4 linked regions of the Homo sapiens genome follow. The protein of the gene in region 1 interacts with the protein of each later gene in a biochemical or structural test. Each region holds a gene or a part of one and is shown in the gene's direction. Other genes may lie near its edges.

The links.
Region 2: the proteins of CFTR (region 1) and CASK interact in a test that uses a peptide from one of them, tested with the Homo sapiens proteins (2 studies listed by IntAct, with this or other methods).
Region 3: the proteins of CFTR (region 1) and NHERF1 form a complex in vitro, tested with the Homo sapiens proteins (9 studies listed by BioGRID and IntAct, with this or other methods).
Region 4: the proteins of CFTR (region 1) and NHERF2 form a complex in vitro, tested with the Homo sapiens proteins (4 studies listed by BioGRID and IntAct, with this or other methods).

Annotation. Positions count from the first base shown.
Region 1 is NC_000007.14:117,588,023-117,595,045, forward strand, and holds part of CFTR (cystic fibrosis transmembrane conductance regulator), read left to right. Parts: intron 1-2,330; coding exon 2,331-2,417; intron 2,418-3,911; coding exon 3,912-4,635; intron 4,636-6,907; coding exon 6,908-7,023. UniProt on the Homo sapiens protein: Epithelial ion channel that plays an important role in the regulation of epithelial ion and water transport and fluid homeostasis. Mediates the transport of chloride ions across the cell membrane.
Region 2 is NC_000023.11:41,514,536-41,521,558, reverse strand, and holds the end of CASK (peripheral plasma membrane protein CASK), read left to right. Parts: intron 1-962; coding exon 963-1,139; 3' UTR 1,140-6,625; downstream 6,626-7,023. UniProt on the Homo sapiens protein: Multidomain scaffolding Mg(2+)-independent protein kinase that catalyzes the phosphotransfer from ATP to proteins such as NRXN1, and plays a role in synaptic transmembrane protein anchoring and ion channel trafficking.
Region 3 is NC_000017.11:74,744,272-74,751,634, forward strand, and holds the start of NHERF1 (Na(+)/H(+) exchange regulatory cofactor NHE-RF1), read left to right. Parts: upstream 1-4,356; 5' UTR 4,357-4,575; coding exon 4,576-5,016; exon of another isoform or gene 5,017-5,596; intron 5,597-7,363. Other genes in the region: RAB37 (ras-related protein Rab-37), read left to right, coding at 37-102, 602-658, 737-813, 1,035-1,140. UniProt on the Homo sapiens protein: Scaffold protein that connects plasma membrane proteins with members of the ezrin/moesin/radixin family and thereby helps to link them to the actin cytoskeleton and to regulate their surface expression. Necessary for recycling of internalized ADRB2.
Region 4 is NC_000016.10:2,029,889-2,036,911, forward strand, and holds part of NHERF2 (Na(+)/H(+) exchange regulatory cofactor NHE-RF2), read left to right. Parts: intron 1-3,405; exon of another isoform or gene 3,406-3,463; coding exon of another isoform or gene 3,464-3,544; intron 3,545-3,700; exon of another isoform or gene 3,701-5,796; coding exon of another isoform or gene 5,797-5,805; intron 5,806-6,435; coding exon 6,436-6,615; intron 6,616-6,839; coding exon 6,840-6,993; intron 6,994-7,023.

The DNA of each region.
Region 1 (7,023 bases):
GATTATGGTTACTCAGAATCTGTGCCCGTATCTTGGTGTCAGTGTATTTGTTTGCCTCATAGTATAGTTTACTACAAATGGAAAACTCTAGGATTCTGCATAATACTGGACAGAGAAGATGTAAATATCTGTTAGTTCCATCATAGACCCTGCCACTCCAATGTACACACCAGCTTTAGGCTTCTTGGTATAGATAAACATACATTTTCAAAATTTTTCATCATAATTTTCATAACAAAATAGGAAGGCAAATGATGTCACTTGGCTTAAAATCTATAATATTTAAAATAAACAGGACAAATGCATTAACATTGTTGGGGGAGGAGGTCCCTTAGTAGAAACACTCTTGGTCCAAGCATTTTAAAGCTGTCAAAGAGATGTAAATATAGATAATGTATGTCAAGGAGAGAGCTTTGTGGTTAAACTGTAACTTTCAGTTTAAACAATTATTGGTGACTCTGATGTCAAATGTTTCTCAAGCTTTATCTGAACAAAATTCTTCTCACTTTGTTGCCAAAGTCGTTAACAAGAAATCACATTGACTCATTGATGTTTTGGCTCCTTTCCCTTACTTTCTGTTGCTTTCCAAAAGCTGAGACAGGAAACTAACCCTAACTGAGCACCTGCAATTGCCTGGTAGTATTCTAGTCATGTGTGTACTTTTGTGTGTATGTAATCCCCTTACAGCTCTGCAAAGTAAGAATTGTTCTCCCTGCTTTACAGAAGAGATCATAAGATAATTGAGGCTGTTAGATGTTAACTTGCCAAAAGCCATACAGGAAAATGGTAGAGTCACAGTTTGAACCAGGTCCTTTTGATTCTTTACATTAAACCATGCTTTGATCTTGGAAATACACTGTAAGGCAATAAATCAATAGATACGGATAATTCACAGGCTTCTAAATAAATGGAAGTTGATTGTTTTTATCTGTGAGCCAAAGTAAGACTTATTCTAAGAATTCCACAAATTTAGATAAGATAGAGTATATGGCTTCTAGACATCCAACATAGAACTGAGTTTGTGTTATCAGTTTAAGATTTGGTTTTGCTGTAAGGTGCACACACTTTGAGGAACTAAAAATAATTGTCTGTTCTTATTCTGATCAGAATGTGTAATGTGTTGTCCAGTTTTGGATGATGAATTTCTTATTTCTAATCTCATAAGAAACTTGTCATAGATGTGAGGGAGAGAATTAAGAACAGAGTGTGGGGAAGAAACTGTGTACATTTTGATGGGATCCATTATGTAGCTCTTGCATACTGTCTTCAAAAATAAGTTACACTATAAAGGTTGTTTTAGACTTTTAAAGTTTTGCCATTGGTTTTTAAAAAAATTTTTAAATTGGCTTTAAAAATTTCTTAATTGTGTGCTGAATACAATTTTCTTTATTACAGAAGTACCAACAATTACATGTATAAACAGAGAATCCTATGTACTTGAGATATAAGTAAGGTTACTATCAATCACACCTGAAAAATTTAAATGTTATGAAGAAATTATCTCATTTCTATTAATATGGGAACTGTGTCTTCATCTTTATTACTGTTCTAAGGTCAACTCAATGTAGATTTTACTTGCTTATGGTTTCATATTTTAGCTAAATAGTAAAATAATATGGATATACATTTTGTTGTGACTTACTCATACTTTCCTTATTTGGAACTTTTATGAATATGATATAGAGACTGAAACTACAAGGAACAAAATGCAATATCAATTATACAGTTGTGGCAGCACTGCTATCAATTTGTTGATAGTGGTTAACACTTAGAAAAACATTTTAAAAATAATTTCACATAAGTAATGTAATTTATTAGCTGTCTCTGACATTTTACAGTTTGGAATAGTTTATTTTCTTTTTGGTGTCCTCACCAAAACCCAACATCTTCAAGGGCAGGAACTGTATAATTTTTGCCATTGTATTTTGAGCACATAGCATGGTACTTGCCTCTAAATAGATACTATTGTTAAAATATTTTTTAAGGTAATATTTTAAAGTGTATGCTATGGTACAGTTCAGTTTGTGACTTTTGCTAGTTTATGCCACTTACAGTTAGCAAAATCACTTCAGCAGTTCTTGGAATGTTGTGAAAAGTGATAAAAATCTTCTGCAACTTATTCCTTTATTCCTCATTTAAAATAATCTACCATAGTAAAAACATGTATAAAAGTGCTACTTCTGCACCACTTTTGAGAATAGTGTTATTTCAGTGAATCGATGTGGTGACCATATTGTAATGCATGTAGTGAACTGTTTAAGGCAAATCATCTACACTAGATGACCAGGAAATAGAGAGGAAATGTAATTTAATTTCCATTTTCTTTTTAGAGCAGTATACAAAGATGCTGATTTGTATTTATTAGACTCTCCTTTTGGATACCTAGATGTTTTAACAGAAAAAGAAATATTTGAAAGGTATGTTCTTTGAATACCTTACTTATAATGCTCATGCTAAAATAAAAGAAAGACAGACTGTCCCATCATAGATTGCATTTTACCTCTTGAGAAATATGTTCACCATTGTTGGTATGGCAGAATGTAGCATGGTATTAACTCAAATCTGATCTGCCCTACTGGGCCAGGATTCAAGATTACTTCCATTAAAACCTTTTCTCACCGCCTCATGCTAAACCAGTTTCTCTCATTGCTATACTGTTATAGCAATTGCTATCTATGTAGTTTTTGCAGTATCATTGCCTTGTGATATATATTACTTTAATTATTATTATACTTAACATTTTTATTTACTTTTTGTGTTAGTATTTTATTCTGTCTTCTCCTTAGATAGTAACCTTCTTAAGAAAATATATATGCTAAGTGTTTTACTGGTTTAATATGCTTAGACTACTCATCTACCTCAATACTTCCTTGGAGATCTCCTCCTCAGTCACACAGAGCTCAGGACTTATATTTCCTTGGAACTCCTGTTAGGGTCCAATGTACATGAAATTCCCTAGACAGACAGACAGTCAGTTATATGGCTTGATTTCAAAGTTTCAAAATGATTTAATGGACTATCAAGTAGTTTATTAGGAGAACAGTTATTATACTCTTCTAAAAATAAAGACTTTAAGCAATAAAGATGTATATGTATATAAAATGGCTGGGTTATTCCTAGAAGTACCTTTCTTAGAATTTAGTTAAATTTAATATCCAAGATACTATCTTTTCAACCCTGAGATTGTGAAAAGTAACTTCTATCAATATAAACTTTACTACATTTGTATTGTGTTAGTGTGTTACAGTATAATCTAGAACAATGTGTCTTTCTATATGATATATGACATTTTAATGCCTAAAAAAACTGATATGTCTTAGATGATTCTAGTCAGGATTTACTTCTAGAATAGATTAAAATTCTATTTGAGGAGAGTCAAATTAATTATCGAATTCTCAGTTGTTATTATTGCTGTTTTATTTTTAGTGAAACAGATTAGTCTTAATGTAAACACTTGAGAAATAAATTGATGGTCAACCTAAAATGTAAAAAAGAAATTAATAGAAAATTTAAAGAGCAACAAAGCTCTGACATTTAAAAGAAATGAAGTACAAATCTCTAGGGACCTTAAAGATCATCTAATAATTTCCTCATTTTCTAGATAAATAAACTGAGAGACCCCGAGGATAAATGATTTGCTCAAAGTCAAATATCTACTTAATATAGGAAATTTAATTTCATTCTCAGTCTGTTAACATGCAACTTTTCAATATAGCATGTTATTTCATGCTATCAGAATTCACAAGGTACCAATTTAATTACTACAGAGTACTTATAGAATCATTTAAAATATAATAAAATTGTATGATAGAGATTATATGCAATAAAACATTAACAAAATGCTAAAATACGAGACATATTGCAATAAAGTATTTATAAAATTGATATTTATATGTTTTTATATCTTAAAGCTGTGTCTGTAAACTGATGGCTAACAAAACTAGGATTTTGGTCACTTCTAAAATGGAACATTTAAAGAAAGCTGACAAAATATTAATTTTGCATGAAGGTAGCAGCTATTTTTATGGGACATTTTCAGAACTCCAAAATCTACAGCCAGACTTTAGCTCAAAACTCATGGGATGTGATTCTTTCGACCAATTTAGTGCAGAAAGAAGAAATTCAATCCTAACTGAGACCTTACACCGTTTCTCATTAGAAGGAGATGCTCCTGTCTCCTGGACAGAAACAAAAAAACAATCTTTTAAACAGACTGGAGAGTTTGGGGAAAAAAGGAAGAATTCTATTCTCAATCCAATCAACTCTATACGAAAATTTTCCATTGTGCAAAAGACTCCCTTACAAATGAATGGCATCGAAGAGGATTCTGATGAGCCTTTAGAGAGAAGGCTGTCCTTAGTACCAGATTCTGAGCAGGGAGAGGCGATACTGCCTCGCATCAGCGTGATCAGCACTGGCCCCACGCTTCAGGCACGAAGGAGGCAGTCTGTCCTGAACCTGATGACACACTCAGTTAACCAAGGTCAGAACATTCACCGAAAGACAACAGCATCCACACGAAAAGTGTCACTGGCCCCTCAGGCAAACTTGACTGAACTGGATATATATTCAAGAAGGTTATCTCAAGAAACTGGCTTGGAAATAAGTGAAGAAATTAACGAAGAAGACTTAAAGGTAGGTATACATCGCTTGGGGGTATTTCACCCCACAGAATGCAATTGAGTAGAATGCAATATGTAGCATGTAACAAAATTTACTAAAATCATAGGATTAGGATAAGGTGTATCTTAAAACTCAGAAAGTATGAAGTTCATTAATTATACAAGCAACGTTAAAATGTAAAATAACAAATGATTTCTTTTTGCAATGGACATATCTCTTCCCATAAAATGGGAAAGGATTTAGTTTTTGGTCCTCTACTAAGCCAGTGATAACTGTGACTATAAGTTAGAAAGCATTTGCTTTATTACCATCTTGAACCCTCTGTGGGAAGAGGTGCAGTATAAATAACTGTATAAATAAATAGTAGCTTTCATTATTTATAGCTCGCAAAATAATCTGTATGGAAGTAGCATATATAAGGTATATAAACATTTAGCCTCTTGATAGGACTAACTCACATTCTGGTTTGTATATCAGTCTTGCCTGAATTTAGCTAGTGTGGGCTTTTTTTTATCTTGTGAGTTTGCTTTATACATTGGGTTTCTGAAAAGATTTCTTTTAGAGAATGTATATAAGCTTAACATGTACTAGTGCCAATCTTCAGACAGAAATTTTGTTCTATTAGGTTTTAAGAATAAAAGCATTTTATTTTTAAAACAGGAAATAATATAAAAAGGAGAGTTTTTGTTGTTTTAGTAGAAAACTTAATGCCTTGGATGAAATGAGCCATGGGCAGGGTTGTAATGAATTGATATGTTTAATAGTATAGATCATTTGTGAATAATATGACCTTTGACAAGACACAAGCCATTAACATCTGTAGGCAGAAGTTTCCTTCTTTGTAAAATGAGGGAATAAAATAGATCCCTAAAGTGTGTAATTTTAGTATTTCTAAACTTTATGAAGGTTTCCTAAATGATAATTCATCTATATAGTGTTTTTTTGTGTGTTTGTTTGTTTGTTTGTTTGAGATGGAGTCTCGCTCTGTCACCTAGGCTGGAGTGCAATGGTGCAACCTCGGCTCACTGCAACCTCTGCCTCCTGGGTTCAAGCTAATCTCCTGCCTCAGCCTCCTGAGTAGCTGAGATTACAGGCATGCACCACCATGCCGAGCTAATTTTTGTATTTTTAGTAGAGAAGGGGTTTCATCATGTTGACCAGGCTGGTCTTGAACTCCTGACCTTGTGATCCACCCACCTCAGCCTCCCAAAGTGCTGGTATTACAGGCGTGTGCCACCACGTCCAGCCTGAGCCACTGCGCCCAGCCCATCTATATAGTTTAATATCAATCTAAATGAATTTCTCAGTCCTGAGCCTAAAAATTTAGTTGTAAAGAATGATATCCTTGACTAATAATAGTTTCTATTAATGGATTGCATCTAGTGCTAGGTGGCATATATTTAGTCCCCACAACTACCCTGGAAGGTATTTAAAATTTTTCACATTTGCAGATAAGGAAACTAAAGTTCAGAGTTCGGCAACATGCTTGAATTCAAGCAGCTCCTAGGATGTTAATGGTGGAGGTTGGGTTCAAATCCAGATCTGTCTGACTCAAAAAATGCATACTCCTAACCAGTGCACTATATCCCAATTCCATAGGAGCCCTTCTTTGTGATTCATAGCACTTTCCCATGAGTTTTGTTGATTTTGTGAGAAACAAAACTCTTTTTCCTTTGGACTGTCTGGAATCTCTCTTTTTCAAATTTTTGAAATGTATTTCTATGCCAAAAGACAAAGATTTCTAGAGGAATATGCCTAGGATGAGAATTATGTAATTTAAATCACAGCTGGAAAGAGAGAAAGTCCTAAGTTACTAAGAAATGTTCAAACACAAATGAGCTTTCAGTCTATTGGAAGACCTTTATAGCTAGAAGTATACTGAACTGTACTTGTCCATGGACCCCTGAAGAAACAGGTTAAATCAAAGAGAGTTCTGGGAAACTTCATTTAGATGGTATCATTCATTTGATAAAAGGTATGCCACTGTTAAGCCTTTAATGGTAAAATTGTCCAATAATAATACAGTTATATAATCAGTGATACATTTTTAGAATTTTGAAAAATTACGATGTTTCTCATTTTTAATAAAGCTGTGTTGCTCCAGTAGACATTATTCTGGCTATAGAATGACATCATACATGGCATTTATAATGATTTATATTTGTTAAAATACACTTAGATTCAAGTAATACTATTCTTTTATTTTCATATATTAAAAATAAAACCACAATGGTGGCATGAAACTGTACTGTCTTATTGTAATAGCCATAATTCTTTTATTCAGGAGTGCTTTTTTGATGATATGGAGAGCATACCAGCAGTGACTACATGGAACACATACCTTCGATATATTACTGTCCACAAGAGCTTAATTTTTGTGCTAATTTGGTGCTTAGTAAT
Region 2 (7,023 bases), on another chromosome or scaffold:
AGCAGAAGCTATACTTGCATGACAAAGCTGGGACCCTAAACTCCCTCCTCCTGTTGGATCCCTCTTACAAGAGTTCTTAAAATCTGTGGCAAGCTGCAGCTTAGGGAACATCCTTTGTTGCAGCAAACCTCCCTAGAGTTCAGTACTCCCTAGAGTTCTCTTCCTTCTGTTTTTTTCATAAGAGATATGAGGACCTACGAACAGTGACATTTGTCTAGCCACTTCTAATGCAGACCAATTTGGGGGGATTCATCAGATGCCAGGTGCTGTTTATTGGGGAAACAGCCTTATTCCAGCCATTATTTGTAACACTCAAAGATCTTTTGCCTCTGGCATCAGCTGCTATTGAGTGAGGGCCATTATATGTAATTGAATTCCTAGAACGTGTGGCACCTTTAAGTAGAAGAGGAAAAAATACAACTTAATTTGTCATCCAAGGGCAGGGACTTGTTGGTGCAAACACAGCTGGGCCCTGAGGCCTGGCTCCAGTGAGTGTGGAGGACCAAGGGGACGGGGGCAAAGAGCTCCAGCCTTGCCACCGTAGCCCTCTCGCCAATTGGGAGAGTGGCTTGAGGCTAGGGCGGGGGGCTTCCTGCTGGCCTGTTTGGGCCACCATAGCCACTGTAACCCACACCTGGCATGGCCCTACCAAGCCTGACTCTGGGGACAGGCACAGCTAGGCCTGAGTGGGGGTGGCATGTTTCCTGAAGAGTATCTGTTTTCTCTGGTTCGTCTGCTTTGTCATGGACCCTCTGTTGCATGTTGAGCAATCACTGTCTCCTCTGTCATGGAGCGGACTTGGCCTCATGCTGGCATATGGCATATCAGGGTCTGGCCTTGACTGTTTCTGACACTGGGATGAACAAAAATGTGAAAAGAGAACGAATCCAACTGATTTCTCTCTTCTGTTTGCTTTTCCCTCCTCTCATGCCCACCCCTACCTCCATCTCATCACCATTTAGGATGAATCTCTTCAGCGTCTGCAGAAGGAGTCTGACATCTTACAGAGAACATATGCACACTACTTCGATCTCACAATTATCAACAATGAAATTGATGAGACAATCAGACATCTGGAGGAAGCTGTTGAGCTCGTGTGCACAGCCCCACAGTGGGTCCCTGTCTCCTGGGTCTATTAGGCCTCTCCCCAGATATCTGAGCATAACTGGGAGCACCTCATTTGTGGAAAAGCCTCTTTGTTATCGGCCTTGTGTCAGCAGGTCATGGTCCCTAGAGACTACCTAGTTGTAGTGTGACCTACATTTATAATTATTGTCATGTCCGAATAGATAGGAGGAGAAAAACAATTACACACTAATTTAAAGAGACAGTATCTTTTTTAATCAGTTCTCCTAAACTTTAATAAAATGTATCTTTAAATGTATGTATTATTCAATCCTTTGGAATGTTATATTTTTGGAAATCATAGCTTTTTATTTCCAAGGCCCCTAAAAACTGCACAAAATAGATGCTGCTTTCTATAATCTATTTTAATAATAATAAACAATGATTCTGTTACCTTGACTGGGGGTGGAACACTACATTCTTTTTAGAGTCTGATTTTATGGATTGGAATATTGGGATATCTTTCTTTCCTTTATTTATTTGAAATAATTAGTGTAGTGATTACAAAACAGTCATAAATTTTTAAAGGCCTTTTTTCTCTCTTTTTTTTTTTTTAGAATAGTATTTTTTTTTAAGTCCTTTATGTAACATCCAGATAATGTGATACTGTCTCTTTGAAGCACCCTGTAAACCTTTTAGAGATTTGAAGTTGGGTCTTGACTCTTAATGCATGTGGACAGTCGCGAGCGTTTATGCTGTCGGTGTGTCTGTGTTGGACAAAACAATCTGTAATCTACAGCAAAGTACATTCTACATTCCGTTCATGGGGCACACCCAGGGGAATAAGAATAAAATGCTATTATGACTAAGTTGTAAACCTATGCACATCCCTTGCATTTTGGGCAACTTTATAAAAAAAAAGAAACTGATTTTTATTAATAATAATCATGTAGTGAAATGTGTTTGTAATTTTGTCTCAATTTAATTTGTTGTAAGGTGGGGTGGGGGGAATTGCTGGTTTCACCATTTCAGATCTGTGTTGTCTAAGAGTATTAACGTTTTAATTAAGCAAAGAAATGATTTTTAATCTGTATGTAATTGTTTTAAAGCACCCATTTTAAGAGAAAATACTGTGCAATGAAGAAACCAGTTTAGGCATTTGCTATAAACTGAAATATTCCAAAAGAATCATCTATAACAGCCCTGTAAATTCCTTTAAAATGATAACTAACAGGACAGTTTGACCAATTTTTTTTAAATATACTTCCTTTTATGTGTTCAATAATTAAATGCCTTTGGGTCCTTCATTTCATTATAGATTTGTTCAGGCTTCCAAGCTGATAATCTTTACAATTGTATAATTTGTTAGATGCTCATTGAACCTTTGAAGGCCCAGGAGTGAGTATCAGTTGGCAGGGTGACAAAGTAGCCTGCCAGAGCACAGCTGGACCACGTCTGACTCGCACAGAGCCATGCGCCCAAGGGCCACGGGTGTACTGGAGGCCACCTGTGGTCTCTCCTTCCTCTTGCTGTATCCCTTGGCACAGGGGAATCATCTGTCCTTGTTGCTTTAGAGACATTAACCATCTCATAACTCTTCCATGAAGTCACATTCTTCCAATACAGGAGATTCGGGCTGGGGTTCTCAGACTCTTTGCCAGAGGTCAGTAGAATGTTTTTCATTAGCATGTGAGGGTGTGAAGTGCTTATATTAACCTGTGATCCTTGAAAACATACCATCATTTTTTGCTTCTTGTAGGTTAGATGGCCTTGTCACTTTGTGCCTTGGCAGGATGTGCAGGGTGTGTTCTGAGCTGAACAGCTCCTCTTAAAGGACCAAACAGAGAAGGCATTAGTATACTTCTTTTACATTGTCAACACCATACCCGCCTCCGCCCCCCACCGCCTATTATTAAATGGTGGCGATTTTTTTTTTTCTGATGTTGTTCTTTGCCAGTGACCAGATGAGTCTGCAACTTACTAACAAGGTATTGAGTGAACTACTTCTGTATGGGCCCCACAGTGGGGTGACCAAGCCACCAAACCAGAGATAAGCTCAACAGTGGTCTCACACTAGATAGAGAGAGAAACCTTCAAAGAGTTGGGTAGGGCTGTGTTAGAACTGATTCGAATCTGATAGATGCCAAGGCCAGACAGTCGTTCCTGGTATGGTACTGACCACAATTTCGGGCTCTTAGTGTGAAGGTGCGCACTCTACCTCTTTTCTGGTGAAGCACAAAGACAACTACAACTAACACATGGGAAACAGAAACTTCCCTCCCTCTAGTGGAAACCCCCACGCCCCCACTTGCCCTTTGAGCCCACATCTCCAGAGATGCTGATGATGCCTGTCTTAAGCCATCTGCCATATTTATAAAGGTGGATTAAGCAGAGGAGGAGAAAAGCAATGCCAACTTAAATGTCTGTGGCCCCACAATTCACAAGCACTGTAGCACTCATCCTCAGTGGCTTTATACGTCCTCTGAGAAGCACACAGGCAGGCATCATTCTTGCCATCATTCCGATGGTGAAATCCCTGCATGCAGAACTCATTGACTTCTCAAAGATGTTACCTGTTCCATTCCACTAATACATGTCTTCTCTAAAGCAGTGTCTTTATGACCTAGCTGCATATACTTACATTTCTGAATTCAGAGTAATTTCAGTACATTGCTGCTGCTGCTGCTGCTGCTGCTGCTGCTGCTGCTGCTGCTGCTGCTGCTACTGCTACATTACAATTGTCCACTAAGCAATCAGAGAAAATTGCTAAAAGCTTCTTTACTGCTTCCATTCCATCAGCAGAACCTTTTTTTTTCTTTCTTTCTTTTAAAGACCAGAATGAATGTTTAGAGTACTAAATCTTATTAGTGGTCAATTGAAGTATTGGAGAGCCACATTTTGAAGGTTCTCTCCCCCACCCAACTCCATTCCCCACAGCAAGAAAGGGAGTGTTTTTATATGTTGAATTCTTTGTTAAAAAGATGAAATGTCCTGATTTTCCAGTCACAAGACAGTAATTACTTTGCACATACAGCATATCCCATTTTAATGCTAAAAAGGGAAATGTCACTCAATTTAATTCATCTGGAAGTTTCCCAGTGTCAAGATAACATTGTAGCCTTTTTAAATGCAATTAAATGTATCTCTTGTCAGGTGAGATGATTTAAAATCTTTGCTCAGAGAGGAAAACAAATGGTTGACCTACTTCTTGCTATTTGCATTCAGAAGGCATCGTCCCAGCCCATCCTATTGGTGGCAGAATATCTAAAGATGTCGCAAAGTCCCCCACTGCAGTAGAAATGCAGGAGGTGTTCCTGTTCCCCGTCCAATTCCTTCTTAGGCTGCTAGAGACAGCCAGTGGGCCAAGCCTTCCCCTGTGCTCCAGGCAGGCCTGGGCTGCAGCTACTGTTACCTTTTTACAGCCTTTGATCTGATCGCTGCAGAGTTCTTTTGTTTTTAAATCACTTGTATTTGTCTCTTCATTAAGGCTTCAAGTTTATTTCTTGAAAAAGTTTAGTCAATTGAACCACCCTCCAGGAAGATTCCCAGCGTGGAAACTGCCCCTGAAAAACAAGGCAGCCCAAAGCCAGCTCTCTTTTGTCCCCCACTGATGTCATGTCCTTTTTTTTTTTCATTTCAGGCCAGTTTCTTAACTTGGGGCAAAGAGAATGTGTTGCTAAAGCTACCAAGAAAACTGCTTGATTAACAAATTCTTAATAGAAATGCCTCCCACACTGTCTCTTTGAAAAGAGAAGGCACCTTGGAATCGGCATTCCAAAACCAAGCTCCTTGTCATCCTCATCCCTCCTCCTTCTTGCTTCCTATTATCAAACTCGTGTGTGTTTCTTGTTTTCTCAGAACTGAACACAGCCTCCTAATTCCATCCTCTTGACTAGGGCTTACAATACTGAGAGCGATTACAGGCTGTAATAAGTTAAAGGTCCCTGAGCGTGGCTTTCTTGTTCTGCGCCTCTAATTAATTCTTCTATTAAAAGATGCTTTCCTTCTCACTGCAGCTTACAGAAAGGCTACAAGCTTTAATCACAGATCATTTCATTTGCCAGAGCCTTTCCTTTTCTAACTCCTTTAGAAATAAGATTTCCCTCTCTGTTTGGAATCTCTGGATACAGGACTCTCCTCCAAGCTCATGGCTTGATTGGCTTTGCCTGTGCACACACACATCAGTTTGCCTTAAACTTGGAGCTATGGGGAGTCCCAGATTTTCCAGCTTAGTGGGTGAAGTTTAGCTGTCACCTACATCCAGGAAGTGGGGGAAAAGGGAAAAAAAGAGGATATTCACCACCATGTTCCCATCCGGTCTTTCCCCTGCCTTGCTTTGTGCAGCAGGTGGGCAGACAGAGCCCACAGAAACAGAAGTAGAAAGAGGGCCGCACCATCTCTGGGGCCAGCACTCCTAAGTCTTAGCTCTTTGTGGGAATAGAAAATCCTGAGCTCCCACCACCTCTCGTCTGACCCTCCATCAACTCCCTCGAACCTGTGCAAATGGACTGAGCAAAAGAAAATGGAAAGAGATGTTTGTCACCACACAGGAGACCTCCTTTCTGGCCCCAAGCACAACTCCATCTCTGCGTATGCTCAGAAACTCAGAATTTAGCTGCTACTTATGTGTTAGCTCCATTCTCTCTGGTGTGTGACTGAGAGAACACGCCAGTGTTCTTACTGACAGAGGCTTAGGGGTGACCCTCTCTGGACCCAGAGGAAGTACAACCTCTGTAGCGAGAATTGTCCTTGGGAACAGAAACAGGCATTCCTCCACAGTGAGTGGCTCCCCCTATTTTTTTTTTATTTGGAAGAGACCAAGAATTGGGGGAATTGATTTCCAGTCTTAGCTGTTTCCCGGAATGTCATCTGTGCAGGCAGGTAGGCGGCTGCCGGGTGCAGCAGGCAGCGTGACTGATGTGAAGGCCGCCCAATCCTCACGTGCTAAGACCCGAGTATCGTGTTTAATTGCAGTGTAGGCACGTCGCCATTCAAACTCAGTTCTGGGGTGGTTTTGCATAAAGTTTTGCCAACGTGTTCTTTTTTCTGTATGTATTATTGCCTTTTTATAAAAGGTGTTGAAGTATTGTCTCAGTGATAAAAAGAGAGAGATGTTAATGGTTGTTGTATATTTCACCGTATCCAATTGTAAGTATTTGCAGGGTACAGCAGAGCCTTAGCTTGCAAGAGCGTTTGTGCAGGAGGTGTCCCTCAACACCCAGGAGCTGAAGGGATTGGAAAGGTTTGGATTCTTTGTAAATGTCCTGCTTTTCTTTCTCTCTGTGTGTATCTATTTACATGCCTTAGCACACGCCCTCCCATCCTGATCCCTTTGCCCTGTCGCCGGAACAACCAGAATGCTGGTGCGCTGCCGGCACAGTACAAGTTGATGAAACCCTAATCAGTTATCTTGTGTGACAGGGGAAGAAGAGAAACTCCATAGTATTCCTTGTAGAATATACATACCTGTAGGATGCTGTGTAATGGGAAACCATAGAATTGGGCTTTTGTCATTTCAAAGTTGGAGAAATGTATGAATAAAATGTATAAAACATGAAAAGGCAGTTGTCTCCTCAGATTGCAGGCCAAACAGCTTGGGGACAAACAACAGAGGGTTAAAAGAAGAGGGATGGCCTGATTTCTAAAGGCCTCTGCAGAGTTCATCCACACAGTTAGGCCTCAGACACCTTCCCACAATGGTTGGGGTGGGGTGGGGGTGTTGCAGAGGGACAGCTCCTGGCCCTGTAAAGGAGCACGACCCAGGCTCCTGGTGCCCATCCTGCAGGTTTCAGTCTTCAGCCATGGCTGTTAACAGACGGCATCCTGCAAGCAGTTCCAGCTCAGTTGCTTGCATTTGGATGCAGGCTTAAAATAGCTTCATCTTAAAAAAAAAAGAAAAAAGAAAAAGTCTAAGTTGTGACATCTCCTAGAAATAGAAGTCTAAATTGATTTCGGTGG
Region 3 (7,363 bases), on another chromosome or scaffold:
GAAGAGAATGCCAGTCTCGCACGCCCTCTCCCACAGGCCTGGCTCACTGAGATTCATGAGTATGCCCAGAGGGACGTGGTGATCATGCTGCTAGGCAACAAGGTGAGTGGCTCCGGGGCAGGGTCAGCCCAGCCCTGCACTTCCTCAGCCCTAGCCGGCCCCATAACCACCCAAGAACAGTTATCTAGGCATCCTTCCTGAAAAGGACTCTGCAGCCTCCAGCTCAGGGGTCAGACATATCTGGAGGCTTCTGCCCATCCCATCTGCCCCTTCCAGGGAAAGTCCAAGTTGTTGCCTGAGAAATCAAGGGGTGCCCAGTTCTCAGCCCCCATTAGAGCAGAGTGAACAGGGTCCCAGGTCAGGGGCTAAGAGTGCAAAGGGTTAGCCCCAACTGCTGTCCTATTCCAAGACCCTTTACCAAAGGTGAGATCCCAGAGCTGGGAGCTACACTGGGCAGAAACCCTGGCCCCAGGCCAATCACACCTGCCTGCAGTCCCTTGGGCCACCAGCAGAGGGCAGGCAACGCCTGCTTCTGGGGCAAAATATGGGCCCGCTGGGGCGGAGGCCTCCTTCCCCAGAGTGACCCATTTGGGCTTGACAGGCGGATATGAGCAGCGAAAGAGTGATCCGTTCCGAAGACGGAGAGACCTTGGCCAGGGTAAGTGATTGTCTGTGGGACAGGGTGAAGGGTGGGGGCAACCCGACGCTGGCCCTGAGGACACTCTCTCCCGGGCAGGAGTACGGTGTTCCCTTCCTGGAGACCAGCGCCAAGACTGGCATGAATGTGGAGTTAGCCTTTCTGGCCATCGCCAAGTGAGAGCTGGGCAGGGAAGGGAAGTGTGCGGGGCAGGGCGGCACACTCCAGGAATCCAGTAGGGCCCGGCCCCTGGCCCAGCCCCTGGACACACCTGCATTCTGCAGGCTGAGGTCCATTTGCTCTGGGAGCACTGGGCCACTGGGAGAGGGGAGGGGGCGGCTCAGCTCCTCACCCCAGCCCAGCCCAGCCCAGCCCAGCCCATTGTCTCTTCTTCAAGGGAACTGAAATACCGGGCCGGGCATCAGGCGGATGAGCCCAGCTTCCAGATCCGAGACTATGTAGAGTCCCAGAAGAAGCGCTCCAGCTGCTGCTCCTTCATGTGAATCCCAGGGGGCAGAGAGGAGGCTCTGGAGGCACACAGGATGCAGCCTTCCCCCTCCCAGGCCTGGCTTATTCCAAGAGGCTGAGCCAATGGGGAGAAAGATGGAGGACTCACTGCACAGCCGCTTCCTAGCAGGGAGCTATACTCCAACTCCTACTTGAGTTCCTGCGGTCTCCCCGCATCCACAGGGAGGGTAAAACACTTAGCTTTTATTTTAATAGTACATAATTTAATACCAAAAAAGGCGCCTGGATCCCCAAAAAACCGAGGCTGGGAGCTAGTGGCCCTTTTGCTTTCTAGGACTTGGGGGGCCGGCCCTCCCTCCTAAGCATAACAAAGGTGGTGTTGCTCCAGCTCAGCCCCAGGGGACACAGATGCACTTTGGGGGTGAGGGCAGGTAATGACTCCATCGCACCCTCAGTTCAGCTGGACAGAGGCTCAGGTGACCCCAGCCTTCACTGTCTCCCGCTCTCCAGGAGCTTATCTTCGCCCCATCTCCCAAATAAGTGGGCCCTTGTGCTGTGAGGAAGACCAAAGCCTCAGGGAAGATAAGAGATATGGAGATGGGAGGGGGAGGACAAGGGGCAGAGAGTAGGGTCTAGCTGGCTATCTCTGGCCTTACTAACACCCCCCTGGAGGCATGCCCCTTTTCTCCAGCACACAAGCACATTGGGGCACCTGGAAATATTGGTTCCAGGCTCCTGTTCTCTGGACTTCAGATCCTGGGGGAGCCCCTCCCCCCCCTGAATCCCTGGCTTAGCTACCTTCCTGCCTGTGCACCTAAAAACCTCAGGTCAGAACTAGGAAAAGAGTTTTGTTTTTATTTTTTTGAAATGGAGTCTCGTTCTGTCGCCCAGGCTGAGGTGCAGTAGTGCAATCTCCGCTCACTACAACCTCCACTCCCTGGGGCTCAAGCGATCCTCCCACCTCAGCCGCCGAAGTAGCTGGGACTATAGGTGTGTACCATCACACCTGGCTAATTTTTGTATTTTTTGTAGACACAGGGTTTCGCCATGTTGCCCAGGCTGGTCTTGAATTCCTGAGCTCAAGCAACCTGCCGGCCTCGGCCTCCCAAAGTACTGGGATTACACGCAGAAGGCACCATGCCCAGGCTAGATGTGTCTTATCCCAATCCTTTGGCAGGCATGCAGCTCCACAGGCGATTTCTTCAAGCAGCTGAAGTGTTTAGCCCTCCTGGGTTAAGAGCCAGATAAGGAGAAATCCCTTTCCTAGGTTTGGAATGTGTTGTGAAAAAAAAGAGAAATCCCTGGCTCCTGGAGCTGGTGGGAGACAAGATTAAGCAAACCTCCCCTGACATGTATCCCTTTGACCCCAAGCTCTGCCTCCTCCCTGACCACCCATGCCCTTTCCTTTAACTTCTCAAACAGATACCAGGGCCTAAACTGCTTTACCTCCCCTCCTACTGAGTCAGGTTAGGTGGTGGGAGGTCACCCATTTCCGAGTTAAACCAATGCAATATGAGTAAAACAAAGTCATGTGGGTATGTCTGGGGTAGAGAGAGGGGTAGCAAGTTCATGTGTCCTCCTTGGTCACATATCTCCCAAAGCTCCGATCCCTGCCATGGGAAGTGGACAGGAAACATGAGGTCATGACCTGCAGGCATCTTTACTGCAGCTCTGCCGGCCTGGAGGGGGAGAGGGGGAGGAAGAAGTATGCGCTGCACATTTCTGAGGCTACTGCATTTGCTTTCAAGGCAGAAATCTTGCTCTGAGCAGTCAGCGGCTCCAGTTTGGGCCCGATAAGGAAGTTCTCCGTGGCCTCCCTCAGGCAGAGCAGGGAGGAGGCTGACATTGCCAGTCTCTTCTGGGGCCCAAGGCAGGTTGCAGGAGATCCAATCCCATAGACAGCTCTGGGCCTCTTGCATTTGAGTTTTTCAGAATTAAACTGCAGTATTTTGGAAAGCACATCCTGTCCACTGTTTCTTTGAAGTGAGTGGGGGGGGGGGGTCTTGTTGAAGGAATTGTCATTCACTGCCAAAATCATTCCATCCTCCTTCCTCAGTGTCTGTCCTCAGATGGTCAGCTCCCCGCTCAACAGACTGTCTCCCGCCTCTGTGACCAGCCTCTCTTTGGCAAGAGGGAGCTAGAAGGCTTTACAGTCCTAATCATTTTTCTGTTGGAAAAAAAAAAAAAAAACCAAGGCTCCTTTCCCTGTGGCGTGTACCCAGAGGTTGATTACCTGAGTCTGTCCTGCCTCTCCCCACCCCACCTCCCTAGCCAAACGCTGCTGCCAAAGCCCACGCTATTGCCCTAGATGGCCTGTCTTCAGCGGGCTGCCCCTCGAGGTCCCAGGCTCTCCGCGGAGCCCTCACCTTCCCAGCAGGGATCAGAACCTGCACTCCTCTATGCGAGTCCTGGGACAGCACAAAGTGGATTAGGGTTAGGGTTCCCACAAACGGAAAAATGTTATTCAAACAACTCTGTAGGGTCCGAGGAGGCCCTCCGTCTTAATTCTCGAGACTGACCGGCCCTCGCTGCCCCGAGCGGGAGCAGTTGCCCCGGCAACAGCCGCTCCCTCTCAACTGGAGCTGCACCCAGGCTTTGGCTAAAGGCTGTTAAAACGTTGGCCAGGTGCGGTGGCTCACGTCTGTAATCCCAGGGCGGATCACCTGAGGTCAGGAGTTTGAAACCATCCTGGCCAACATGGCGAAATTTCGTCTCTACTAAAAATACAAAAATTAGCGGGGCGTGGTGGTGCGCGCCTGTAACCCCAGCTGCTCGGGAGGCTGAGGCAGGGGAATCGCTTGAACCCGGGAGGCGGAGGTTGCAGTGATCCGAGATCGCGCCACGGCAGTCCAGCCTGGGCGACAGAGCGAGACTCCGTCTCAAAAAAAAAAAAAAAAGTTAGGGTCCTTTACCCGAGGGCCGGCTTTCCTCACTCCCCGCCACAGGTAGGGGAAACCAGGCCGGAGCCGGCGGGCCCACCCGCCCAGAACCGGGAATTCGGCGAGCCCCGCCCCTGCCACCCCAGCGCCGGCCGCTCGGTAACAAACACTTCCACTTCCTGAGCGCTAGTCTTCGCCCGCCGCGGGGCGCCGCGCCGAGCGCAGGCCCCGCCCCGCGCGTTCCCAATGGCCGGCGCCGTTCACCCGGCCGGAGCGCCCAGGCCTGCAGCCCCCTATTGGCCCGCGGAGGTCCCCACCCTCAGCGCGGCCCCGCCCCCGGGGTAAGGAGCCGGGGCGGACTCTGGGACGCTCAGACGCCGCGCGGGGCGGGGATTGGTCTGTGGTCCTCTCTCGGCTCCTCGCGGCTCGCGGCGGCCGACGGTTCCTGGGACACCTGCTTGCTTGGCCCGTCCGGCGGCTCAGGGCTTCTCTGCTGCGCTCCCGGTTCGCTGGACGGGAAGAAGGGCTGGGCCGTCCCGTCCCGTCCCCATCGGAACCCCAAGTCGCGCCGCTGACCCGTCGCAGGGCGAGATGAGCGCGGACGCAGCGGCCGGGGCGCCCCTGCCCCGGCTCTGCTGCCTGGAGAAGGGTCCGAACGGCTACGGCTTCCACCTGCACGGGGAGAAGGGCAAGTTGGGCCAGTACATCCGGCTGGTGGAGCCCGGCTCGCCGGCCGAGAAGGCGGGGCTGCTGGCGGGGGACCGGCTGGTGGAGGTGAACGGCGAAAACGTGGAGAAGGAGACCCACCAGCAGGTGGTGAGCCGCATCCGCGCCGCACTCAACGCCGTGCGCCTGCTGGTGGTCGACCCCGAGACGGACGAGCAGCTGCAGAAGCTCGGCGTCCAGGTCCGAGAGGAGCTGCTGCGCGCCCAGGAAGCGCCGGGGCAGGCCGAGCCGCCGGCCGCCGCCGAGGTGCAGGGGGCTGGCAACGAAAATGAGCCTCGCGAGGCCGACAAGAGCCACCCGGAGCAGGTAAGCGGGGCCCAAGCCGCGCAGGCTGGCATGGAGTGGGAGGAGGATCCGGAGAGACCCAGGTGCCCCGGCCGTCCAGCCCCGCGCCCGCCGTCGTTTTTCTGAAACTCGAGCTGCGAGGGGGAGACCGCTTCCGCCCGCCGACCAGGCGCCCTGACACATCCTAGGCAGGCCTGGGGCTGCGTCCCGCGACCTCCTCTCCTTCCCAGGCTGTGCTGGGAGCTTGAGCGCCTTTGCCGCCTGCACCTCTTGTTCCCTGGCCTTTGGGAGGGCGGCGCAGGGGAACCCAGCCCCCTTCCCTCGGGTCTGTGGGTGTCTGCTCCCGTTCCTCGGAATCCCCCAATCCTGCTCCTTCCCTGGTGCCCTCTCCTCGTTCACCCCAGTCCGCAGATGGGCCGGGGAGAAAGGGCTCTCCGCCCCAGAGGTGCCAGCTTCGCCCGCCACTCCTACTTCAAAAGCTAGAGGAATAGCATTACTCCTCCTGTGTGGAGCCCCGGCGCGAGGAGGCCCTCTCCGCAGCCCGCCGGTGTGTGTCCTGAACTTCAGTCCTGCTGGACTTCATCCTCCCGGAGTCCTGTGTGACTTCTAAGGGAGAGGAAGCCCCACCATCTCAGGGCGGTGTGGGGGTTGCCTGGCAGGGAGGAGGAGCCAAGGCATCTCGGAGTGGTGGTTCTGCCACCTCAGAGGATTTACGATTCTCAGGAATGTGAAGAGTAAGCGCCTAGAACTGTATCTGGGAGGGAAGGGGAAAGACCTTGGAAGAAGAAAAAGATGGCCATGGGGAGGAGAGAGAGCTCCTGGGGCTCACGGCCCTGTGTGCGCCAGCGGAGCTCACGGTGAGCCGGTGGTCTTGCCCTGGCCTTGCCATGGTCACTCTGGTGCCCACACAGCCAGCAGGCCGGTTGCTTTTTGCCCATGTTTGGTGTTTGCCCATGGGATCCCAGTTTGGATCAGCTGCAAGAGGGGCAGCTGGCAAAATAGGAGTTGTGCTGAGCCTCCTGTCCCCAGAGAGTGGAGTGGTGCATTGTGTAGGGCAGGGCGTGAGCCTCCCAGGACCCCTTCAGCTTGCACCACCAGCTCTCCCTGGTGGCAGTGTCTGATGGGAGTGTCCGTGGGGCTACGAGGAGCCTCCTGGACAGAGAAAGGGCACAGTTCGGCATTAAGGTAGAAGGCAAAGCCCTAGAGGATCAACTGGTTTGGTGGAAGTGAGGTCACCAGAAGCCCTGTCCAGCCAGAGCTGGGTGCTGGGAATGCCAGGGCCACCAGGCTCCCACTTCCTGCCCCTGCCAAGCTGGCATTGGCAAGGGGAGGGGGAAGGGATCTGAGCACCCGGAGCAAGGAGGTTGATGCCAGGGAGTTGGGGCCGATGATCTCCAGTCCCAGGCAGAAATCCAGTGTGAACTTTGTGCTGAGTCCATCGATCGATTTGACATTCTTTTTTTTTTTTTTTTTTGGACTTTGGCACCCACACAAATACCCACCCACCCCCACCCCCCACAAGTTGCAGTCTCGTTCAGCTCCTCCCTTTGCCCTTTTGGTTATGCTGCTGGGTGCCAGAGGGCCTGGGAGGCGAACGTGGAGGCCTGGCATAGCACACGTGCGCAAAGGCAGCAGCTTTGAGCTTCCTGGGTGAGCACAGACTCAGATTCCTGCATGTTTTGGAGGGACACCTACATTTGTGTGTACTTTGTTAGGCCAGGAGATGAGAGGAGAGCCACCAGCAAATCCTGGGGACACCATCACCAGCCAAGTCCCAGGACTTCTGAGTTCTGGTTCTCCCATCTGTGAGATGGAGGCATTGGGCGATGTGATGCCTGCCTTCTCTAGAATTATAGAAATGACGTGAAGCACTTGAGCCCCTTACTAAATGCTGAACTGCACTCCTTCATGCCTGGCGTTTGAATCCCAGCTCCTCTAAACTGACTCCTAGTCAACACCATTGAGTCCTTCTAGCAGAAAATCCTCTCCTCTCAATCCTGTGTGTTGAGCATACAGACACCCATGTGGTTATTAGAAAAAATGTTAACAGACATTGTAAGAGTTCGTTTTTCTAAAACACACCCGTTTCCTACATAAAGCATCAAATGGAGGTTTGCCAATTCGTTTTAGTCTGAATTTGTGTGCAAGGTGGGGCTGTTCCCTTGTCTTCATTAGCCCTCCACTTACTAAGTGATGATATCAGTGGAAAAGTGTGGCGCAGAGAGTGGTTGGCTGGGTGGCCTCTGGCTGGGAAGACCAGCTGTGTCCAGAACCACTCAGGGCAGAGGCTGAGGGGTGCCTGTAACACTGGCCATCCCCGCTGGGGAGTCTAGGCCTAAGGAGGTGGAAGTGGCTCTCCAGCTCTGCC
Region 4 (7,023 bases), on another chromosome or scaffold:
TCTGCCTTTTGGGGCTCCTTTTCTGCCCCAGGGACCATCTTGTTGGCCACTGGGGGCCACTGTTTCTACCCTCAGCCTGTGTTTTAAACTGGGTAGGGTCAGGGCAGCCTGGCCTGTTCCTCTTCTCCAGGATGCTCCAGAGCCACTTGCCCTATCGAGGGGTCACTCTGACAAGCTGCCGCCTCCCCAGCCCCCAGCCTCGTGGCTGAGGAACCCTGGGAAGAGGCATTCCAGGTCTGCGTGTGCGCAGCTCTGTGCCTGTGCTGGGTGTCATCCGTGGCTCTGTCTTTGTCTCTGTTGAAGGCGCCTGCATGCTGGGAAGGCCTGGGAGAGGGCCGGCCTTCTCCACAGGCAGCGCCGTGGTTGGGGAAGCCTAGGAGGCCACTCTGCCAGGCCTGGCGTAGGTGGGGCTGGGAGCATGGGAGTGGAGTTGGGGGTCCAGGAGGCTCCAGGGTGAGCCCACTCCTCCCCCTAGATACAAGGGAGGGCCCTGGGACCCTGTCTGCTGTTCCTCCTGGACTCCTGCTGGGTAGTACTTCCTCCTTCCCCTGCCCTTGCTCCCAGCCAGGAGACCCAGAAAAGTACAGGGGCGGCCTGCTCCACCTCCTGCTAGGTGGCCGACTGGGAGGGGCGGCCTGGCAGGCCTTGGGGACCAGGAGGAACAGCCTGAAGCTGTCTGTCTTATCTTCCTGGAGGCCCTGATGGCATTATCTCCATGTTCTCTCCTACCTTTTTTTTTTTTTTTTTTTCATTTTCAAAGAGAACCCTGGCCGGGTGCGGTGGCTCACGCCTGTAATCCCAACACTTCGGGAGGCTGAGATGGGTGGATCACCTGAGGTCAGGAATTTTGAGACCAGCTTGACTAATGTGGTGAAACCCCCGTCTCTACTAAAAATACAAAAATCAGTTGGGCATGGTGGGGCACGCCTATAGTCCCAGCTACTTGGGAGGCTGAGGCAGGAGAGTCGCTTGAACCCGGCAGGCGGAGGTTTCAGTGAGCCGAGATCCCGCCATAGCACTCCAGCCTAGGCGACAGAGTGAGACTGTCTCAAAAAAAAACAAAAAAAGGAAAAGAAAGAAATCCCTTCAGGGGATATGAGTCCAGGGGTTGGCCAGACCCCACTGTGAGAACCGCGCTTGGGGCAGGGGTGTGGGATCTGGAGTTCTGAGGGTGCAGGGGATATACACATTCACTTTCTCCCTTTCCCAGACGTCACTGCTGAAGCTGGCTGCCCCTAGGAGCTGAGCCCGGGGGGAGCGGCTTGGCAGGGAGACAGCATTCCCTGTGGGGAGCCCAGCCTGGGCGCAGGCCTGCCCGTGGGACCTGTGGGACCCGTTTTGTTCCTGGGGCTTGAGGGCGGGCCACAGTGGTGCTCAGGGCCAAGGTGCCCAGCCCAGGGCTGGTGGGGGGGCTGGCCTTGCAGGGGGGCTGGCTGGTCCTAAGCCCCTGTCTCCAGGCTGAGGGTTGGGGCCTCCCTCTTTCCCAGCCACCTTCCCTCCCCCAGGAGGAAGCTCCCCCTCTGCCTCAGGCGTTTGTCCATTGATTTGGACACAAACGCATGGTTCACCTTCCTGTGGAAAAATCCGGCCCTCGGACTTTATCTGGAGGGTGCAGTGGCCCAGGCACCTTGCCTTGGGTGGGACCTTCCCCCTCTGCTATTTCAGGCTCTGGGGGCTGCAGGAAGCCCTAGGAGGGGCTTCCTCTGGGTGTATTTTTAGAGGAACAAAGGGTGGCCTGAGTGGCAGGTCCCTTTGTGCATGAGTCTGGCTGGGGACAGGGGCTCCAGGAGGTCAGGGGGCACCCAAGGAACAGGGTCTCCCCTTCTCTCTTCTGGCATCAAGACCTGAGGTTTCTTTTTCTTTTTCTTTCTTGGCTCACTACAACCTCCGCTGTCTGGGTTCAAGCGATTCTCTTGCCTCACCCTCCCCAGTAGCTGGGATTACAGGCGCGCACCACCACACCTGACTAATTTTTGTGTTTTTAGTAGAGACGGGGTTTCACCATGTTGCTCAAGCTGGTCTCGAACTCCTGATCTCAGGTGATCTGCCCTCCTCGACCTCCCAAAGTTCTGGGATTACAGGTGTGAGCCACTGTACCCGGCCCCTGAGGTCTGAGGTTTCATTTCTTTCTTTCTTTTTTTTTTTTTTTGAGACGGAGTTTCACTCTGTCGCCCAGGCTGGAGTGCTGTGGTGCGATCTCGGCTCACTGCAAGCTCCGCCTCCTGGGTTCAAGCAATTCTTATGTCTCAGCCTGCTGAGTAGCTGGGATTACAGGCGTGTACCACCACACCTGGCTAATTTTTGTGTTTTTGGTAGAGACAGGGTTTCACCGTGTTGGCCAGGCTGGTCTCAAACTCTTGGGCTCAAGTGATCCGCCTGCCTCAGCCTCCCAAAGTGCTGGGATTACAGGTGTGAGCCCCTGCGCCTGGCTCAGGACCTGAGGTTTCTTCACCTGAGCTCCCAGCATGGGCAGGAAGAGGTGGGCCTCACCTGACCTCCACAGAGCAGGCTCAGATCCTGCCCTTCTCAGCCTGGGTTCAGGGCATGCCTCAGATGGTCAGGGAGCCCAGGAGGGCAAAGCTTACCTTGCGGGGATGGCTCCAGTGGGGGCACTGGTGGCAGAGAGGCAGAGCTCTGGAAGGGATGTGTGTAGTTTGTCTTTGGTGAAGGATGGAGAGGGCCCAACTTTGGGTGCCCCCTGGGAGCTAAGGGTGGCTCTCAGTGTCCTCTGTCCTGGCTGGGGATAGGGGAGGTGGGCAGGGGAGGACACTGATGTGGTTGGCCCCTCCTTTTGGGGGCCGTGAAGGCCTAGTTAGTGATGACTCAGCCCTGGGCCACACCAGGCTGGGGGTGGCCGCAGCTGCAGTGCAGCTGATCCTAGTAGTGACGACAGGGGACAGCCCCCAAACAGAGACGGGGTGGCCAGCGGTGCCAGGCCCTGGAGGTGGTGGCAGACCCTGAGCCCTCTGCCCCCTGCCCCTAGCCCATGTCTCCACCCCCATCTGGAGGGCCTTGGGGGCTAAGAGCAGGTGTGAGGGGTGACAGTTCTGCGGGAGGCGGCTGTGTGGTTGGGGCGCGGTGCCTGCGGGGGCTTCCGGGCTTCCCTGGCTCTTGCTCCTCTGGAGCCTCAACAGGACCGTCCTGTGTTCTGGGGCCGGGACTCCTCCCTGTCCCCTCAGCCCTGGGTCCTGGGGCAGGGCAGGGCCTTCCAGCAGCTTCCTTCCTTCCTTTCTTGGGACGGAAGCCTAGCTGGGTGGGGGGCGCCAGGCTGGAGCCTTCGCAGGGGAGCGGGCTCAGTCATCACCCTGCTCCCCAGAGTGACTCAGCCCCCACGTCCCCACCCATCCCCGGGGAGCCAGGGCCGCAGAGGGAGGTAGATAAGTGGGGTGGCAGCCTGGGTCGGCCAGAGAGTTCAGGCCACCCCGGCCGGACGCCTGCCACTTGCTGTCACTGTGCCGCTGTCATGGCACGCTCCGGGAGTGCCACGCCACCTGCCCGGGCTCCGGGAGCCCCTCCACGGAGCCCACCCCAGAGGCTGGTACAGGTCAGGTGGGGTGGGAGGAAGGGAGGGCTAGGAGGAACCGGCAGCCGCTCAGCCTCCCGGGGTGGAAGGAGGGGACTCCGGGACCTTGATGTAAGCAGGCTGGTCGCTGAGCAACAATGAAGGCCTTTCTCTGCCAGGGCTGGTGCGTCACCATCTGGGGGGGTGCCCAGGGTACCCCCATGCCAGCCTCTTTGTCCGGACACAGGCATGGCTGGGGGACCAGGGATGGTCCAGCTCTGTGCTGGCCGCCGGCAGGGAGGGAGCCTGGAGCCCGTGGGAGCCCGAGGGCCTGGCGGGAGGCGGCAGGAAGTGTGTGCTGAGCCAGGGCAGGGAGGAGGAATGTGAGCTATGAACGCCGCCCGAGCTCCTCGGCTCTCTGGGCCCCCCTTCCCCACGAGCCCATGTGCTGCCAGCAGCCCACCCTGGCCCCTCCATTGCAGCCCCTCCACCTGAGGTTTTAGTGCTGTGCCTGGCGCCACTGGGACCCTGCTGACAATGAAGGGGTTTAGGTTTGATAGGCAGAACTTCTTGCCTTGTAGAGTGAAAGACGGCTGCTTCTGGACAGAGGCAGAGGGGTGGCCAGAATGACCCTGAGAACACTGAGGGGTCCTTGGCCTGGCCTCAGGGCCCCAGACACCCACCAGATCCTGCTTCCTGTCTGGTGCCCTGAGAAACCCTGCCCCGCAGGCCGCTGTGCAGGCGTGGGAAGGGCTGCCGGGCCAGCACTGTGGGGCTGGCCGCATGTGTGGGCTGCTGTGCGTGTTTGCAGGTGTGTGTGGACGTCTTGTGTCTGTGGCTGTGTGATGTGTCTTTGCGGACTGGGCCCATATCACGCTCCCACCTCCTCCACTGAATTGGGCTCCTGTCCCCACGCCTTCCCTGCGTCCCAGGCCAGCCTGGGGGCCGTGCTCCACCTCCCCTCCCGAACTGGACTCCTGTCCCCACGCCTTCCCTCCGTCCCAGGCCAGCCTGGGGGCCGTGCTCCACCTCCCCTCCCGAACTGGACTCCTGTCCCCACGCCTTCCCTCCGTCCCAGGCCAGCCTGGGGGCCGTGCTCCACCTCCCCTCCCGAACTGGACTCCTGTCCCCACGCCTTCCCTCCGTCCCAGGCCAGCCTGGGGGCCGTGCTCCACCTCCCCTCCCGAACTGGGCTCCTGTCCCCACGCCTTCCCTCCGTCCCAGGCCAGCCTGGGGGCCGTGCTCCACCTCCCCTCCCGAACTGGACTCCTGTCCCCACGCCTTCCCTCCGTCCCAGGCCAGCCTGGGGGCCGTGCTCCACCTCCCCTCCCGAACTGGGCTCCTGTCCCCACGCCTTCCCTCCGTCCCAGGCCAGCCTGGGGGCTGTGCTCCACTTCCCCTCCCGAACTGGACTCCTGTCCCCACGCCTTCCCTGCGTCCCAGGCCAGCCTGGGGGCCGTGCTGTGACTGCATCCCTGAGGGGCACTTTGGTGGGCAGGTGTCAGGGTCAGCCTTGAAGCCCCACGCCTGTGCCACCAGGTGTGTCTGGGGGAGGAGTGAGTCTATGTGGTGGGGCCCTGGAGATTTTGGGGGTCTTGCACCCTCTAATTCAGCCCATGTGGCCCAGCTGAGCCCCTGTGGGGCCAGGGAGCCACAGGCTTGTCCCTGGAGTTTCTGGTGTGACGGGCTGGGTGGTGGCCATGCAGAGAGGGTTCAGAGGGTGGGCAGGAGGCTTCAGATGAGGCATCTGGCAGGCTGGACAGGAGAAGGGTGTTCCAGACCAAGGGCAGGTCCTGAGCCCAGGGGACAGAGCACTAGCTGTGTGGAGAAGGACCCCCTTGCTCCCTTGGCGGGGCGGTCCCCCCCGCTGACATGGCCGTTTCTGGTCCATTGGGGTTTGGAGCGAGCTTGAAGGTGGGTGGCTGGAGGGGTTGGGGGTGTCTGAGGCCTGGAGACCTGCCCTCCTGAGGTCTGAGCGCCCCCTTGCCATGCCGCCCCAGCCCTGGCCTGGCCTGGCCTGTGGTCCCTCAGGGACACACAGGGAGGTAGGAGGTGAGGGAAGGGCCCTGGCAGCCCCCAGCCCGCCTGCACAGTCTCCCCTGCGCACGCCCTCAAGCTTGGCGCTCCCTGGAAACCTGAGCTGCCTCCTGCCTGCTCCGGCCACCGCCATGTTTAACTGAGCACGGGCAGCCGCTGGCCACCGCCGCCGCACCCTGGCCCACCCCCTGGCTGGGAGGTGGTCATTGGGCCTGGCCTTGCCTGCATGGTCCCCTGGCCCAGAGCCCTACCGCAGGATGCCAGAGGTAACATGGGGCAGGGCCTGGGATGGTAGCGGGGGGTCCTTCCGGGCACCAGGAGGCCCTCTGTGCCCTGTCCACACTAAGCTCCTGCCCCAGCCCCTGCTTGCTGGGCCCACGGGGGTGGGGCGGCTCATTTTCCTGGAATGTGAAAGCAAACAGAGCCGCCACCGCAGCCAGCCCCACGGAGGCCTCTGGAGAGAAAACAAAACTGCTGGCCTAGGAGCGCCTGCCCCACGCTCTGGAGGAGAGCCCGGGGCAGGGGGACGCACAGGCAGAGCCCTCAGGGACAACCGCCCCAGGAGGCCAACGGCGACAGTTCATCCCACCTGGTGCTTCCTCCCACCCTGCCTGTGCGCCACGCTGGCCTCGAGCCAAAGGAATTCTCCCAGCAACCCGGGAAGGCGGCTGGGCCCGTCGGGGAGGCTTCTGGGTTTGAAAACAGGCTTTGCCCAAGTTCCCACAGCTAAAGCTCTGTCACAGGCAGCCTGGGTGCCCGGAGTGTTTGCCACTGAGACCTGGGCCTGCCCGTGGGGGGCACGGTACCGAGTTTGGGCAGTGGCGGCACCACCGGGGAGTGGCCTCTGGAGGCGGGAGGCTGGAGCAAGAGACTGACCCTGTCCGTTGGGCCTGCAGGATGTCAGTGGGCCCCTGAGGGAGCTGCGCCCTCGGCTCTGCCACCTGCGAAAGGGACCTCAGGGCTATGGGTTCAACCTGCATAGTGACAAGTCCCGGCCCGGCCAGTACATCCGCTCTGTGGACCCGGGCTCACCTGCCGCCCGCTCTGGCCTCCGCGCCCAGGACCGGCTCATTGAGGTACCGGCCCACCAGGGCTGCGGGGTGCCGAGTGCCCCGCACCTGTCCACACTGGGGCCCTGGGTCCTTGCAGGGAGGAGGGAGACGCTGGGAACCTGAGCTGGTGCGCCTCCTGCTGCCTCGGTGGGCGGTGGCTGTGATGAATATTTGATGCCACACCTGGCCACGCGGCGTTGGGGGCTGTCTGGGCCCATGGCGGGGCTGATACATGCTGGTGGCGGCAGGTGAACGGGCAGAATGTGGAGGGACTGCGCCATGCTGAGGTGGTGGCCAGCATCAAGGCACGGGAGGACGAGGCCCGGCTGCTGGTCGTGGACCCCGAGACAGATGAACACTTCAAGCGGCTTCGGGTCACACCCACCGAGGAGCACGTGGAAGGTGGGCCACGGCCCAGGGCACAGGGTGGGT